4 separate regions of the Homo sapiens genome follow, and regions 1, 3 and 4 are each reported to be linked to region 2. Evidence: microRNA targets listed by miRTarBase, many of them from high-throughput screens and not tested one by one. Region 2 holds a microRNA gene; each other region holds the end of a gene's coding sequence.
Evidence for each region. Region 2 holds the annotated microRNA hsa-miR-2467-3p (AGCAGAGGCAGAGAGGCUCAGG, at 1,578-1,599, shown strand). A microRNA usually pairs through its seed, bases 2 to 8, with sites in the 3' UTR of a target mRNA and lowers its output. Matches are read on the target gene's strand: a 7mer-m8 pairs with bases 2 to 8, a 7mer-A1 pairs with bases 2 to 7 and ends in A, and an 8mer does both.

Region 1 (4,000 bases), not on the chromosome of region 2:
AAACATACTAAAATGAGCATCTGTTACCTCATACAAGCCAAGCAAGTTTTGAAGAACTGCTTTAGAATTGACTCATTTTATCTGTTAATTCCTAGGCCAAAGAGCTTAAACCTTTGTATTGTTTCTTCAGCAAGGTGAATGTGGTGACATGGGAGTATTTAAAATGCCAGTTGTCCATGGAGTGTCTCTGCTTGATTTTCTTTCAGCCAGCAAATACTGCAAAATGTTAGTTGAAGAAGAAGGATTGCAGCTTTTGTGTGATATCCAGGAGCACAGTGAGGCAACCCCCAAAGCACAGCAGATTGCAGCCTCCATTCTGGATGACTTCAGAATGCATTTCATGAATTATCAGAGGCCCACTCTGTGTCAAATGCCCTTCTGAACCTAAGGAATTTCAGAGGTGTGTGCTCTTCCTCAATGTCAGGTGTTCTGCCCTGGCAGTAATTGCACATCAGTTGTCATTGGAGTTTGTGAGTTGGCTGTCTCATTGGCCTTTGATTGTTGATTTTATATATGTTACAAAAGGTTGGATTTGTATGATAGCTGTAATCCCAAGTCAAGTTGGACTCATTCTGCAGCCTTTCAGCAGCAATTTTGAAGACTCAAACCGTGGACTCTGGGAAGGCCTGGGAGCTTGTGTTGGAACAGCTATGCAAGTTACTTTTCTCTAGCCTTGGACAATTTTTTCCCTTTGGGAGCTTGTCATGGGAGTGGGACCTGTTCACTAGAAGAGAAAGGAAACCTACAGGGAGACTTTGATATTTATATTAAATTTCCTTTGTTGTTATCGTCATGTGAAGCTATGAGAAAAGCTTGGGAAGCATATGCTTCAAAATGTAGTGTTTAGAAGGCAGAACCCCTGTTGGAGAGCGGGGAAAAGAATTTATTTATTTATTTATTTATCTATGGCTGGGTATGGTGGCTCACGCCTGTAATCCCAGCACTTTGGGAGGCCAAGGCAGGTGGATTGTCTGAACTCAGGAGTTCGAGATCAGCCTTGCCAACGTGGTAAAACTCCGTCTCTACCAAAAAATACAAAAATTAGCTGAGCGTGGTGGTGTGCACCTTTACTCCTAGCTACTTGGAGGCTGAGGTGGGAGGACCACTTGAGCCCAGGAGGCAGAGGTTGCAGTGAGCTGAGATTGCACCACTGCACTCCAGCCTGGATGACAGAGTGAGACCTCATCTCAAATGAATAGAGGGGTGGAGAAAAGAGAAATATATTTTTTTACCTTTTTTTTTTTTTTTTTTTTTGTGACGGAATCTCGCTCTGTCGCCCAGGCTGGAGTGCAGTGGCACAATCTCGGCTCACTGCAACCTCTGCCTCCCAGGTTCCAGCAATTCTCCTGCCTCAGCCTCCTGAGTAGCTGGGACTACAGGCACATGCCGCCACGCCCGGCTAATTTTTGTATTTTTTAGTAGAGACAGGGTTTCACCATATTGGTCAGGCTGGTCTCGACCTCCTGACCTCGTGATCCACCCGTCTCGGCCTCCCAAAGTGCTGGGATTACAGGTGTGAGTCACTGCACCTGGCCTTTTTACAATTTTGGGTGTCTATCTTTGGCATGTTTCCTGTTATGTGAGCATGACATGCTGTGTATGTGAGTGAGCTTGTAGGGCGTGGTGGGACTTAGGCATTTGCAGACAGTGTTTAGATGAAAGATTACATGTAATGATAAATCTGAATCCCTCCATTTTATTTGGGTGGAACCATGACCAAAAATGGTAGGAAGACGAAAGGCCAGAAAGAGACTTTGCCAGAGAGTTCACGGAGTTTTCTTACCCCGCATGCTGACTAAAGAAAACATGGGCTTTTCTGAAACCAGCTTCAACTACAGTATAAACTATATCAGAAGCTTACTTGATAAGCCTTGCGGAGCTGCTCTGAGGAATAGTGTGAATTCCTTCCTTGCCTTATTGTTGACTGTTAATGAACATGTTTTGTCATTTATCTGTTTAAGTTTTTCAGAAAATAAAAGTAAATTTCTGTTAGCACATTTTAGGATTAGATTTTTGTGCTTTTGGCTGGCTTGGTTCAGATTCTTAACTAGAGTACCATGTACTGTCTTTGGAAATCAAATGAGGAAGAAGCTCATTCTCTTACTCTAAACCATGTTCCAAACTATTACCAGAGTCCAACCAGATAAGCAGAATTTGTAACCTTACTTCCTTCCATAGTCCTTAAACTGTACTGTATTTTTTCACACTCTTGCATGATTCCAAAAGGATATCTTCCTGACCTGGGTTCTAGTACCTCAGAGCATTGTTATCAGATGCTAGCTTATTCTAATGTGAGGATGTGTTAGGGGAACTAGTGTGTTAAGTCCAATTCTGTACAAGACATCCTTTCAAGTTCTGTGTCATTCACAACAATCCTCACGGGTAGGTGAGTTTTATTTTCCTCACTTAACAGATGAGAAAAAGGAAGTTCAGTAAGGTGGTTACTTTCCTGGGTTGTCATAGCTGGTGTGGTTTGTGCTGACTGTAAAGGCCTGGGCTCTCCTGTGTTATTCTTCCTTCCAGGATGCAAGCATAACCCTGGGAGCACATTTGTATTTTGCAGAAATCCGCAATGTTATTTATATTGTATCCATGCCCATGGTTTAGTGACTCTAGGCCAGGCTGAGGCTCAGCTTAGCCAGCGCTCAGATCCAGTTGGAGAATGACTGCAAAGGCATAGCTTAAGATGTAGCCTTGGTACCAGAGGAGGGAGGGGTATTGGGACCAGTATGGTTATGTATCAGCCTGCTCTTGGTTTTCTAAGTGTATCATCCTCTTCCTCACCTTTGCTCATGCTGTGTCAAGCTTCCTCTTCTGTACTTGAAATGTTCCTTAATCCTTCAGGCTTCAATTCCAATGTTAGTTGCCCATTTCCGGATCCTCCCTTCTTTCCATTAGAGTTAATTGCCCCTTTCTTCTCAGTGCTCCTAAATGCTATCAAAGAGTCTCCTGGAGGCTAGGTGTAGTGGCATACACCTGTAATCCCAGCACTTTGGGAGGCCCAGGCGGGCGGATTGCTTGAGCCCAATAGTTCAAGACCAGCCTGGGTGATATGGCGAAATCCTGTCTCTACAAAAAAATACAAAAATTAGCTGGGCATGGTGGCATTTGCCTGTAGTCCCAGCTACTCCAGAGGCTGAGGTGGGAGGATCACTTGAGCCTGGGAAGTGGAGGCTGCAGTGACCTGAGATGGCGCCACTGCACTCTAGCCTGGAGCCTGGGTGGCAGAGTGAGACCCTGTCTCAAAAAATAAAAAGAATTTTCTGCCACCCTGTAGTTTACAAAAGTGTTTCACAGTGATGATTTCGTTTGGTCCTCACGAAAACACTGTAAGTTAACAATTAAAACATATTTATTGAATATGAAGTGTTTTTATTTTGCTAAATCTTCACAAGTTTTGTTTTGTAGGTGAGGAAGCTGAGGCCCAGAGCATTTAAACAATTTGTCCACGGTTATACAGCAAGTAACTGGCAGAGACTGGGATCTGCAGTCTGACCCCTGACACATGTTCAACCGATGTCAGAGTTTATTTATTACCTCTGTTGTTCACAGGAAGAAACTAGGGGTATCTTAAAATCTTCTGACATCTCTAATGAGTGCCTGATAACTGAGAGAGGTCAGGGGCTGAGAGCCAATGATACCAAGACTCAGAGAGATCTAATTTAATTCTTTATCATTCAAGTAGAGAGACAGGCATTTTCCAAAGCAAACCCAACCCTCGTGATTATTTCTAGCCAGGGTGAAGCTAAGGAAGGTAGCAGTAGGTGGTAGGATCAGCACCTTGGTTCCAGGCATCACGCCAGTCATTTTATTTCCATCATCATCCTTGTGAAGAAATGGAAGTCTGGAGAGGTGAAATGATGAAGGCAATCTGGCCACAAATCTTCCTTCTGGATCCTGCTCTTCAGGGCATGCATCTCCCATGCTGAAGGTTAAAATGGGGGTCATTTGCCAACAAATTTGGGAGTCCGCTTCTCCCTGAAGGCTGCCATGCCCTCTA
Region 2 (4,065 bases):
GATAAAGAAGGAAGTTGGTGGGGCGTGGTGGCTCAAGCCTGTAATCCCAGCACTTTGGGAGGCTGAGGTGGGTGGATCACTTGAGGTCAGGAGTTTGAGACCAGCCTGGGCCAACATGGCAAAACCCCGTTTCTACTAAAAATACAAAAATTAGCTGTGCCTGGTGGCATGCACCTGTGTTCCCAGCTACTCGGGAGGCTGAGGCAGGAGAATTGCTCGAACCCAGGGTTGCAGGGGTGGTGGAGGTTGCAGTGAGCCCAGATCGTGCCACCACACTCCAGCCTGGGCGATAGAGCAAGATTCTGTCTCCAAAAAAAAAGAGGAAGTCATCATTTCCCTAGTTGGATGTTGTTTTCCAGATCGGAACTTCCATGTTGTAACTCCAGTCTCTTTTCTCCTTCTGACCTTGCAGGTTCATCTGCAGAAGCCAGCGGACGCCTCTGTTCAACTTGTGGGTTACCTGGCTCATGAGACCTTGCCGGCGAGGCTCGGCGCTTGAACGTCTGTGACCCAGCCCTCACCGTCCCGGTACTTGTATGTGTTGGTGGGAGTTTGGAGCTCGTTGGAGCTATCGTTTCCGTGGAAATTTTGAGCCATTTCGAATCACTTAAAGGAGTGGACATTGCTAGCAATGAGCTCCCAAAGCCATCCAGGTAAGGCCGGGTCATTTCTTCTCTGGGCACACAGCGGGGCTTTCTTTGCCCAAAGTAGAAGTTCTTGTGACTGCAGCTTGCTTTCTGGATTTGAGACTTTTGTTTTTCTTGATAGTGGTCACTGTTGGTTTTTGACAGCACAAAGTGCAAAATGGATGGTTTATTCTTCCTCTTGGTGAAAGAAGAATGATAAAACCTGGGAGGATGTGGAGTCAAGTCTGCGACCCCGGTTTGCAGGCTGACTTGAGAGGCACACAGGTTTCCTCGATGCTTTTTGACAAGGGTGATGTTGAAAGGTCAGGTTGTGATGTGGAGAGCTGGTTTCTTGCCCAGTGTCTTTGTTGTTTCATGAGGGGTTGTGTGAGGGGTGGGAGTGCTCCTCCAACTGGGCGTCTGGGCTGTCTGGGAAGAAGCTCATGTTCCCACTGAGGTCGTGGCCACAGTTGCTCCTGGTGTTTGAGGGCCTCTGTGAGGGGCTGCACTAAGCATTTTACAAGCATTTAGTACAGCCCCAGATCATCTCAGGCCTGGAGGGAAGAAGTAATTTGCCTGAGGTCACAGAGCTGGTAGGTGGGGGACCCACATGATTGGGAAGCAAGCTTGTCCTGCTCTGAGCTTCAGAAGCATGTCATGGGCCCATCCATTTACGACTTCACACTTTCTGTCCTTGGAAAGTCACCGAGAGCGTGCACCATAATGAAACCTCGAGGCCTGCCGCCGACCTGCCTGAGTGTGGGGCTCCTGCAGAGCCAGTCCTGTGCTGCCCAGCTTCCTGCCACTTCCAGCGCACCGTGGCCTTCAAGGGCACTTAGCCATCGACTTCTGTCTTGCGTCCACATGAGAGAGAAGACGGTGGCCACTGGACAGACGCTTGGACAGGCACCTGAGGCTCTGTTAGCCTTGGCTCTGGGTCCTGCTCCTTAGAGCAGAGGCAGAGAGGCTCAGGGTCTGTCTGGGTCACTCTCTTTGAGATTGCCGGAACGCTTACACACATCTTTCCCTGGGTGGAATCGTCTTTGTCTGAAAATTCCAGAGGGCAAGATTCCAGGTTTTTTTAGATATGAAAGTTTTATTGAGTTAAATTGTTTATGTATTGACTGATGTAAAGAAATGGTTTATGATCATTCCAAGACAAAATTAAGCGCTATGGCTCAAAGTGTCTAAATAGACATTGAATGGAGCTGGCTCTCTCCCTCCTACACTGGGCTGCTGTTGGGTGAGAGTGTATCTTTTTTCTGTGTCTAAACATAGTGTGATGTGTGTGAGCATTTTCATAGAGTATAATTCTATAGGCAGGGCCCTGTGTTTTACATTCTGTCCATTTTAATGTGTTATAAGCATCTTTTGGTATCAGTATGTGTGCAAATATAACTTGCTCTTTTGATACCTTGCGAATGGATATTTATGTGGTTGTAGCAGTGTTTATACCAATTCCAAATTGGCATCAAACAATTATTATACATATATTTTGTAAACTTCTAAGTATCACTACTAGACAAATTCCAGGAAGTGGAAGCTGGGTCAGTGAGCCCGTGCACTTAAAACATCATTAGGTTGACTGTCAAATTGCTCCAGAAGCCTCGTTCCAACTGATCTTCCTAATTCCAGTGTAAGAGGATGCATATTTTTCATTTGTGCTGTACCAGCACTGGGTAGGTTCAGTCTCTCTCATTTTTGTCAGTGTGCTATGGGAAAATTATTGTTTGAGTACACTTGATTATTTTAATGGGGGTGCATATTTTTGTATGACTTGGTGTACACATAATCATAATTTGTACATGCTCTGCAGGCATTTGAAGAGAAAGTATGCTCTTAGGATTTTGTTTCAGTCTAAAGACGTCTGTATGTATGTATCAATATTGTATTTAAAGTTCTCGGCCGGGCGCAGAGGCCCACAGCTGTAATCCCAGCACTTCGGAAGGTCAGGGTGGGCAGATCACAAGGTCAAGAGATTGAGACCATTCTGACCAACATAGTGAAACCCCATCTCTACTAAAAATACAAAAATTAGCTGGGCGTGGTGGCGTGTGCCTGTAGTCCCAGCTACCCAGGAGGCTCAGGCAGGATAATCGCTTGAACCTGGGAGGCAGAGGTTGCAGTGAGCTGAGATTGCGCCACTGTACTTCAGCCTGGCGACAGAGCAAGACTCCGTCTCAAAAAAAAAAGTTCTCTCATTTATATATATTTTATTTATATATAGGAGGATATGTATCCTTTCTTTATATGTTGTTTTAATTATATATTAACTCAGTTGAGTTATTTAAATCAGTATAGCTTTACTTATTTTTTTCTGTCTGCTCGATTTCTTGGAAAAGTGTATTTTTCTACTGTGATTATAGTCTTATAATATTCTTTTTACATTAATAACCATTTTTTGCTTTATATAGTTCAGTGTTTTTTTTTAAAGCTTAAAAATTAATGACTGTTCTTTTGGTAGATCAGGTCTCTTATCAAAATATAATATATTTCTCTTTGTTTAATGTTTCTTTGACCGAGAGCTTATAGTGTTTCATGAGGTATTTCTACCCTTGGTTTCTTTTGGCTAACAAATATTTCTCCATCCGCTTGTCTCTAACCTTTTCAGGCCGGGTTCTTTGAGGCTCAGCTCTGGAAACCGCGGGGTGCTGGGTTTGTTTGGCCTTTTCTGTGGGAATTTCAGCCGCTGCGGTTCAGTTTGATCACCGGCCTGCCCGGGCCTGTCCTGCCCATGTGAGTTGGGTTGTGTGCGCCTTATTGCCACCCACGACCTCTCCATTCTCTCTCTCAGTGGGTTGGAGGCTGAAGACAGGCCGCACTGGTGAGGGCAGGGCTGCCCCTTGGCCCAGCCCATTCTCTGCTCTCCATCTGTGCAGGGGGTACAGCTGAGGTGGTTTGCCTGGGGCCTGAAGTCTGCTGGCTGCCTCCTCTGCCCTGTCCGCTGTCATCTTTCCCTGCCGTGTCTGCCCTTCCGCCCGGAGGTCCCTTGGGAGGCAGGACCCCTTGTGCCCAACACGTGCATACCACCACCTGCACACACTGGCTGGTGGCCCAGCGGCCTCTGCCCACGTCTCAGGCGGGGGATGGGGCTTGCCCAGAACCGTGCCCTCCCTCCTGGGCGAGGCCCACTCGCTTGTGTGCCTTCCCAAGCAGCTCCATCCCCAGAGATCTCTAGTTTCGGGAAGTTCCTCTGTGTTTCTTGTCAGCTGATGCACCTGTCCGTCCGCTCCCAGGCATTGCTGGAAGTGCTTTCCAATCCTGCTTTTCATCATTTTAGTGGGTTTTGGGAGGAAGAGAAATCATTAATACTAAAGGATTCAGTTTGCTCTCTTGAGCGGGAAATTTCTAGGTGTGTCAGAGCACAGCCACGGAACCGCTGTCCCTTTTCCTTGAGCCGAGGAGCCGAGTCCTGGCAACGTGGTGTTCGGGGCCTACC
Region 3 (4,065 bases), not on the chromosome of region 2:
AGGTTCTTGCGGGGGTACAGCTCCGACATGACTGGTTGCACGATGCTGAAAACCACTGTTAAATCAAGTTTAGCCTAAAGCTGCCTCCTTACATATTTTAAGTTTGGCCTAAAGGTTTCTCTGTACATCATGAACTATAACGTAAATGGAATAGTATACGGACTCTAGTCTACTCTTGTGCCAGTCACTGAGTTTGGCCAATCGAAGATGGCCAATGATTCAAACTATTCAAATAAGGCAAACACCGAGCTGTAACCAATCCGGCTATTTCTGTACCTCACTTCTGTTTCCTGTACATGACTTTCCTTTTGCTGTCCATAAATCTTCCACCACGTGGCTGCGCTGGAGTCTCTGAGTCCACTCTGGCTCAGGAGACTGCCTGATTCATGAATCATTCTGTGCTCAATTAAACTCTTTTAAATTTAATTCAGCTTTTAATACCACAAACCCCCATCTTTTTCACATGACAATTCCCACCTTTTATGTAGATATGCACACACCAAAAGGTAGCCAAAGGGTACAAAGAAGTTTATTGACTATGATGCAGTAAAGATACCAAGAGTTACAATATTTGTGCATATGGCCCAACAGTGCCTACCCTCCTACAAAACAAAAACAAAAACAAAAAAAGGCAATGAGGTGCAGCAGTTAACAGCCCAACACTGGAGTCAAAGGAATGGAGCTGCCTCTTCTGGCAGCAAAGTTTCAAGTTGTGCAATTAAATAATAGTCTTGGTCCACTCCTTGTGGGTCTTCTTACAGTTTCCCTTTAGAACCATAACTGAGTGACTTAGTAGAACATTCATATTCAGGATGTGGCCTCCAGAAGTGTCGTTTTGTTTTGTTTTGAACAAAGACGTGCTACCTTCTCTCTTGAAGCACCAGTGCTGGGTTCAGGAGCTACAGAGGACTAAGATGTTCCCCAAGTAGCCTGAAGTAACAGGTCACATGGAAAACACAAAGCAATTGGTGAGTCCACATTTTGTAATAGAATTAAGAGCGTAATGCATAAAACTTAAAGTCATGTAACCACATGTAAAAACTTCAGCAGCTAAAGAAAAATTCTGGAAGGCTTTTAACCCCTTCTGAACTAAGTTCCCTTTCTAAACGAGGCTGGTTTCCATGGCTGTGACAAGAGCTCATGAGGTAGCAAAAAGAGAGAGAGAATAGCACCTTAGAAGTTACTCAAACAAGAGGTGAAACAAATAAGTAAACAAAAAAAGACCACTTTATCTTCCTTTCATCCTTAAAGAAGGCAGGTGTCTGTACACTGCTTTGTGATCCTTCGAAGAATAAAAAGCTGTAACCCAAATCTCAGTATAAGGGATGAAGAAGGAAAATGATAGCAGCTGATGACTGGGATGCGACCACAAACCCATATAGTAAACTAAGTTATCAACGTACTCCCTTACCACGAAGGACTTCATTCAGTCATTTAAAAAGCAAGGGACTAGTTCAAATCATGATTAAGGCTATAAAAGAACACGACTGAGTATTCACAGAGCACCAATTACCTCAAGTTTAGACTAGGTGTCAATCTACAAACATACTACCCTGCATTAATCTTCACAACACACCTGCGAGGACATTACAAGAAGGCCCAGCCAAAATTAGTTCCTCATTTAATGGGATATGGCTTTCAGTGGGTTCCTGTAACACCATCTCTTTCTTGGAGAAATGAGGACCTGCAAAATAGTCCCCCTCACAATGAGATCTCTATCTTCAAATCTCTGAGAGCCCAAGTTATTTACTCTCATTGCTCAAGTTGCTTTCCTCTCTCTGTTGAGGTGTCAGAAATGGTCACGTTAGATTGGCCTCAGACAACCACAAAAGTTAACAAGCAGTCCCAAAGTACCGTGAGGTTTAACCACTGGAAATGTAAACTGCCGGTCCTGTCTTTGCCCTTCTACTTCCTCGCGTGACCAGAGTCAAATCACAATGTCCTTCAACTAACCAGATTCGCTCATCTGTGGACTAGGTTAACAGAAGAGGCTAGGCCAAATCTATGATACGGATCTAACAACCCAAATTTTTTAAATTAAGTCTTCAAAAAAAAAAGAAAGAAGTTGAGAGAGAGAAAAGTGATTTTTAAACTAACATATACAGTCTGAAGCGCTGTAATATGGAAACTTCCTGAACCACCTAATGAAAAATCATGAAAAGGGATCAACCTGTTGAAAGAATAGAGACAGGTGAGGGGATAATTTTTGTCTCTCATAATTGAGAAGTAAATCCAATCACTATTACAGAAGACTATTTATATATGCACCATCCATCTTTACTGATATACTATACATATGCCTTAATGGCTTATAAAAAATCCTATGTAAATTAACATTTGAAACAAGTTGTCATAGCAGAATGGAGTAACCTGCTGTAAGGCACTGAGAGAATACAAAGGAGAAGTATGTCATGCACAATCTCACTTCCTCATCTCAAATATTATGTAAAAACCACTTGCAAATACCATAGTTTACTCACAGTTGGCACATTTTAGAAATCAACAAAGTTTTGAAAAACAATACAAGTGAAAAGATGATTTAATTTGCAAAGAACTCCTGAAATACTCCATAAGCCCCCCACTAAAAACCTGTAAAGAGTTTTTCTTGCCTCTGACCTGAAAATTCAAGAAGAAAAGTTGTAGTTATAAGAAAATAAAATAACAGGCCAAGCACAGTGGCTCATGCCTGTAATCCCAACACTTTGGGAGGCCGAGGCAGGTGGATCACGAGGTCAGGGGATTGAGACCATCCTGGCCAAAATGGTGAAACCCCGTCTCTACTAAAAACACAAAAATTAGCTGGGTGTGGTGGCGCATGCCTGTAATCCCAGCTACTCGAGAGGCTGAGGCACAAGAATCGCTTGAACCCAGGAGGCAGAGGTTGCAGTGAGCCAAGATCACACCACTGCACTCCAGCCTGGCGACAGAGTGAGACTCTGCCTCAAAAAAAAAAAAAAAAAAAAAAAAGCAAGACAGAAAATAACAAAGACTCCTTAGCCCAAATTGTACCAGCAAGACTAAAGAAAATAATTTTTCTACTTCACGATTCCTTTCCTTAACTGTAAATTGATGACACTGTACTTAATACTTTAAAAACCCAGTCAAAGCAAACCAATGACTTGATCCTACCAACTCTAAGGAAACTAAGGGTATACACCCTAAGTTATCCAAACACAACTGAGGTTGAGGTCATTAAACCGGTAAGTATACGCCCTATACTAACTCACAGCTGAAAGTGTACATGGAGCAAAAAACAAAGAATACATATCCCAAGCGAATATTTTGTCTGGTGACACATCAGGAAGCCACAAGCTCCACTTCATTTAAAAAATTATTTGGGTATCAGCGGTGTGGCAAACATTCAAAATTCTCCTTCAAACAGTTGGAAGAAAACATGTAATACATTCCAGAGCAAAGATGAATCAAAAAGTATCTTTTTGCTCAGGAAAAGAATTTCTTCATTCAATTACAGCATAATTCATTGAAAGGGGAAGTCATGAGTCTCTTATGAGAGTTCCTGAACAGTTTATAAATACAACAAGAACATTTATTCAATAAATAAGTGGTTCCTAAAGTCTTTACTGATGATCTCCAGGATTGTCCATCGCTATGGTCCAGGCCAGCTCCACTTTCTCTGACAGGCTTTAGCTGCCAGTGGAATGGGATGTTTCCTGTCTTTAGGTGACTCTTCTTGTGTCATACAGACTTTCATCAATATGTCTCTTCATAGTCTGAATCCTGGAGGGAGCAAAACAGCAGGTGTGAAACACAATTCCAGAGTTGGAATTTAGGCAAAGACCACATGTTAGGATCCTCCAAATGGAACCTGGCTTGGGGAGACAGCCACAGTGAAATGCCACTGACTCAATACACCTAAATTCCCACGGAGCTTCACAGGACCTCAATATAATTGGTGTCTATTGGGCTAATTTCTGCTTTGAAGCCCTAGTGGTTTCCTTTCCCTTGGTGAATATTTTTTAGAACCTCAACACACAAGAAAAGATGCCCGCCTACCGCACCCTTTCTTAGCAAAACAAGTGTCAGTGGAATCACCCCAGCGATCCT
Region 4 (4,065 bases), not on the chromosome of region 2:
GCAACCCCAGCCGGCTGCCTGCTAAGTGCCCTGGCAAGGGTGCCTGGGTGAGCTGGGGCACAGAATGGGCAGGGGCTGTGTGCAGGGCACGCCTAGCAGAGGGATTTTATTTTGCATACATGGATGTCCTCGGAGACTGGGCCGTCCTGGGCGATGCAGGGGACGTGGAGAGAGCCCAGCCCTGTGTGATCATGAGTGGAGTCGAAGGTGGAACTCAAGCTGGAGGGCTGGGGGTGGACTGTGGAGCCTCTTCCAGGGCACGAGGGGCGGTGTCCTGGAGGAGGGGCCATTTGATTTGGGTTTTGCTGCATGAGTAGGAGTTTGCCAGGAAGTGGGAAATACATAGTCAGGCAATGATTTGTTGGGAGGTCTGTTTGGGCTGTGCTGGCAGCTGAGGCCCCAGAGGCCAGTCTTGACCTCCCTCCACCCTTCTCTCCCCTCCTTTTTATCCACAGTCCATCCCATGGAAGTGGCTGTTTGGGGCGACTGCTGTTGCCTTGGGGGGTGTGGCACTCTCTGTGGTCATCGCTGCCAGGAACTGACCACCTAGGTGGCTGCCACCCCCTCTGCACACCATGGACCCTGCCCTGCGCTCCCCAACTCCCCCAGGCTCCCTGTCCACTGCCCTCCCTGGTCTGGCCCCCTCCTCCGGGTTAGGGGAGCAAGGATTGGGGGTCGTGCAGCCCAGCCAGCAGGAGGGACTGAGGCCCTCTAGGAGGAAAGCCCAGAGGGAGGGGGCCCTCATTCCTTCAGACCCAGTTTTCCCCCACCCTCCTTACCCCGCTGGGCTAGGTCTCCGCCAGGGCTGGCCTCAGTTTCTCCTCAACAGGCCTGGGGGCAGCCCTTCCCCTGCCTAGTCCCCGCCTGAGTGCCAGCCCCCCACCCCGCCTGCCGCCCCCTGTCCAGGTTCCCTCCCCGCCACAGTGAAATAAAGCATCCCACCCTGCAGTTTCCACGGACTCCTGAGCTTTCTTCTCCCGCTGTCTGGGGCTGGGCCAGAGACAGCCTGTGATGCATCTGGAGTCACACAGCATGGTGGATGTGGTTGAGCCAGCTGGAGCTGGGGGTCTCCTCTCCGGGCACAACATACTCACTTTACAGAGGAGAAACTGAGGCATAGAGAAGTGGGGTGATGTAGCAGGGGCAAGTGGGTTGAGAGGTCTGACTCAGCTGGACTCTGGGGGTGTTACTGCCCAGCTCCACTCGTTACCCCAGCGTTCACTGTTTACTCACCTGAAATCCAGGACCCCAGTGGGCCCTACCTTGAGGCTGCTGCATGGGTTCTGTGGCATCATTGCTTTACCTAGTGGATGTACTGAATTCAAAAGAGACAGATGGTAGGAGGATGACTTGAGCACAGGAATTTGAGGCTTTAGTGAGCTATGATTGCACCACTGCACTCCAGCCTAGGCTGGAAGACCTCACCAGAGTGAGGTCTCTCTTTTTATTATTTATTTATTTATTTATTTATTTTTGAGACGGAGTCTCACTCTGTCACCAGGCTGAAGTACAGTGGCACGATCTCTGCTCACTGCAACCTCCACTTCCCGGGTTCAAGCAATTCTTCTGTCTCAGCCTCCCGAGTAGCTGGGACTACAGGCGCACGCCACCATGCGCAGCTAATTTTTGTATTTTTAGTAGAGACAGGGTTTCACCATGTTGGTCAGGATGGTCTTGATCTCTTGACCTTGTGATCTGCCTGCCTAGGCCTCCCAAAGTGCTGGGATTACAGGTGTGAGTCACCGTGCCCGGCTCTTTTTTTTTTTTTTTTTTTTGAGACAGAGTCTTGCTCTGTGGCCCCGGCTGGAGTGCAGTGGCGTGATCTTGGCTCACTGCAAGCTCCGCCTCCCGGGTTCATGCCATTCTCCTGCCTCAGCCTCCCGAGTAGCTGAGACTACAGGCGCCTGCCACCACGCCTGGCTAATTTTTTGTATTTTTGGTAGAGACGGGGTTTCACCGTGTTAGCCAGGATGGTCTGGATCTCCTGACCTCGTGATCCACCTGCCTTGGCCTCCCAAAGTGCTGGGATTACAGGCGTGAGCCACCGCGCCCGGCCTTTTTTTTTTTTTAATAAAGAGGTGGGGTGTAGTGTCATGGCCTGTAATTTCAGCTCTTTGGAAGCCAGGGTGGGAGGGTCGCTTGAGCCCAGCCTGGTCAACACAGTGAGATTCCATCTATGTTTAAAAAAAAAGTGCACCAGGCACAGTGGTTCCCACCTGTAATCCCAGCACTTTGGGAGGCCGAGGTGGGTGGATCACTTGAGCTCAGGAGTTCCAGACCAGCCTGCCCAACATAGTGAAACCCCAGCTCTACTTAAAATACAAAAATTAGCTGGGTGTAGTGGCACATGCCTGTAATCCCAGCTACTCGGGAGGCAGAGGTTGCAGTGAACCGAGATCATGGGACTACACTGCAGCCTGGGCAACACAGGGAGACTTCATCTCAAAACAAGAGACAGATGGGGTCCAGGGGAGAGGATGTGAATGTCTGGATGCAGCCTGTGAGAAGGCACAGCTGGAGGCCCAGGAAGACCTCTCCCAGGGGATGTGTGCGCTGATATTTCAGCGATGGCAAGGGTCTGCCCATGCAGGAAGCCGACAGCCCCAGGTCTGGGCAACAGCACGCCCAGTACAAAGACCCTGGGGCCAGGTCTAGCCTGGTGCATTCCAGATGGATGAGGCTGGGTAGCCTGCAGAGCCATACCCTGCAGGGCTTTAGGGGCCATGAGGAAGGGCCAGGGTTGATGCTGGGAGGTTCCCTGATCCCATCTGGCTCTCCCAACTCTGGACTCTGGGAGCTTCTCCTATGATGCCGCTCACCAGTGCAGCCAGGATGGGCGGAGCCAGCATCGGGGCCTCTGTCAGCCCAGCACCCACACCCTTTCTTCCTGCTGTTCCATCTTGCCCCCAAGAATAAGGGCATCCTTGAAAATAGACCACTACAGTCACCTCACCTGCATCTATCCCCTTACAGCCCAGGAGGGAAAGCTGCCTGCCACAGCCACCCAGGAGAAGTTGGTGCAGAAGGGAGGTTGGAGGGCCTCCCAAAGGCCTAGGACTCCAATCTACACCTCCACCTCACCCACTCACCCGCTTCTTCCAGGCCCTTGTTCTCTGGGTCACCTGGATGACTTGAGGCTGAGTGTGGCTTGAGGCTGTGCTCTCTTTCCAGTGGTTAGCCCCAGGTTCAGGCAATTCTCCTGCCTCAACCTCCCAAGTAGCTGGGATTACAGGCATGTGCCACCACACCCAGCTAATTTTTTTTTTTTTTTTTTGCATGCCAGCTCTGTCACCCAGGCTGGAGTGCAGTGGCATGATCTCAGCTCACTGCAACCTCTGACCTCTGCCTCCCGGGTTCAAGCGATTCTCCTGCCTCAGCTTCCCAAGTAGCTGGGATTACAGGTGCACGCCACCACACCTGGCCAATTTTTTTTATTATTTATTTATTTTCGAGATGGGGTCTTGCTCTGTCACCCAGGCTGGAGTGCAGTGGCCCAATCTTAGCTTACTGCAGCCTCCGCCTCCAGGGTTCAAGCAGTTCTCCCACCTCAGCCTCTCAAGTAGCTTGGGATTACAGGGGCACGCAACCAAGCTTGACTAATTTTTTTTTTTTTTTTTTTGAGACAGTCTCGCTCTGTAACCCAGGTTGGAGTGCAGTGGCATGATCTTGTTCACTGCTACCTCTGCCTCCCAGATCACGGTTCAAGCGATTCTCCTGCCTCGTCTCCCGAGTAGCTGAGATTACAGGCACACGCCACCATGCCCAGATAATTTTTGTATTTTTAGTAGAGACGGGGTTTCACCATGTTGGCCACGCTGATCTTGAACTCCTGACCTCATGATCCACCCGCCTCGGCCTCCCAAAGTGCTGGGATTACAGACATGAGCCACCTCGCCTGGCCTTTTTTTTTTTGAGATGGAGTCTTGCTCTGTCATCCAGGCAGGAGTGCAGTGGTGCATCTTGGCTCACTGCAACCTCCGCCTCCAGAATTTAAGGGATTCACCTGCCTCATCCTCCTGAGTAGCTGGGATTACAGGTGCGTGCCACCACGCCCAGCTAATTTTG

Region 1: miRTarBase lists ZYG11A as a target of hsa-miR-2467-3p. Seed matches in the 3' UTR shown: 7mer-m8 at 1,318-1,324.
Region 3: miRTarBase lists MPZL3 as a target of hsa-miR-2467-3p. Seed matches in the 3' UTR shown: 7mer-m8 at 2,875-2,881.
Region 4: the mRNA of FKBP8 is a reported target of hsa-miR-2467-3p. Seed matches in the 3' UTR shown: 8mer at 564-571.

What each region holds. Positions count from the first base shown.
Region 1 is chr1:52,892,576-52,896,575 of GRCh38, forward strand. It overlaps ZYG11A (zyg-11 family member A, cell cycle regulator), which reads left to right. Exons shown (of 14, transcript NM_001004339.3): 14 at 207-2,423. The coding sequence ends at 382. It overlaps ECHDC2 (enoyl-CoA hydratase domain containing 2), which reads right to left. Exons shown (of 10, transcript NM_001198961.2): 10 at 3,335-4,000. The coding sequence ends at 3,945. Among named protein-coding and RNA genes, the nearest start is that of ECHDC2, 27 kb to the right of the region's middle.
Region 2 is chr2:239,349,266-239,353,330 of GRCh38, reverse strand. It overlaps MIR2467 (microRNA 2467), which reads left to right and starts at 1,527; the gene lies at 1,527-1,607. It overlaps HDAC4 (histone deacetylase 4), which reads left to right. Exons shown (of 27, transcript NM_001378414.1): 2 at 413-653. The coding sequence starts at 632. RefSeq lists a silencer at 671-864.
Region 3 is chr11:118,226,183-118,230,247 of GRCh38, forward strand. MPZL3 (myelin protein zero like 3) reads right to left here. Exons shown (of 6, transcript NM_198275.3): 6 at 508-3,738. The coding sequence ends at 3,712. Among named protein-coding and RNA genes, the nearest start is that of JAML, 3.2 kb to the left of the region's middle.
Region 4 is chr19:18,528,646-18,532,710 of GRCh38, reverse strand. FKBP8 (FKBP prolyl isomerase 8) reads left to right here. Exons shown (of 9, transcript NM_012181.5): 8 at 1-47; 9 at 456-948. The coding sequence ends at 542. Among named protein-coding and RNA genes, the nearest start is that of ELL, 8.6 kb to the right of the region's middle. RefSeq lists an enhancer at 2,318-3,203.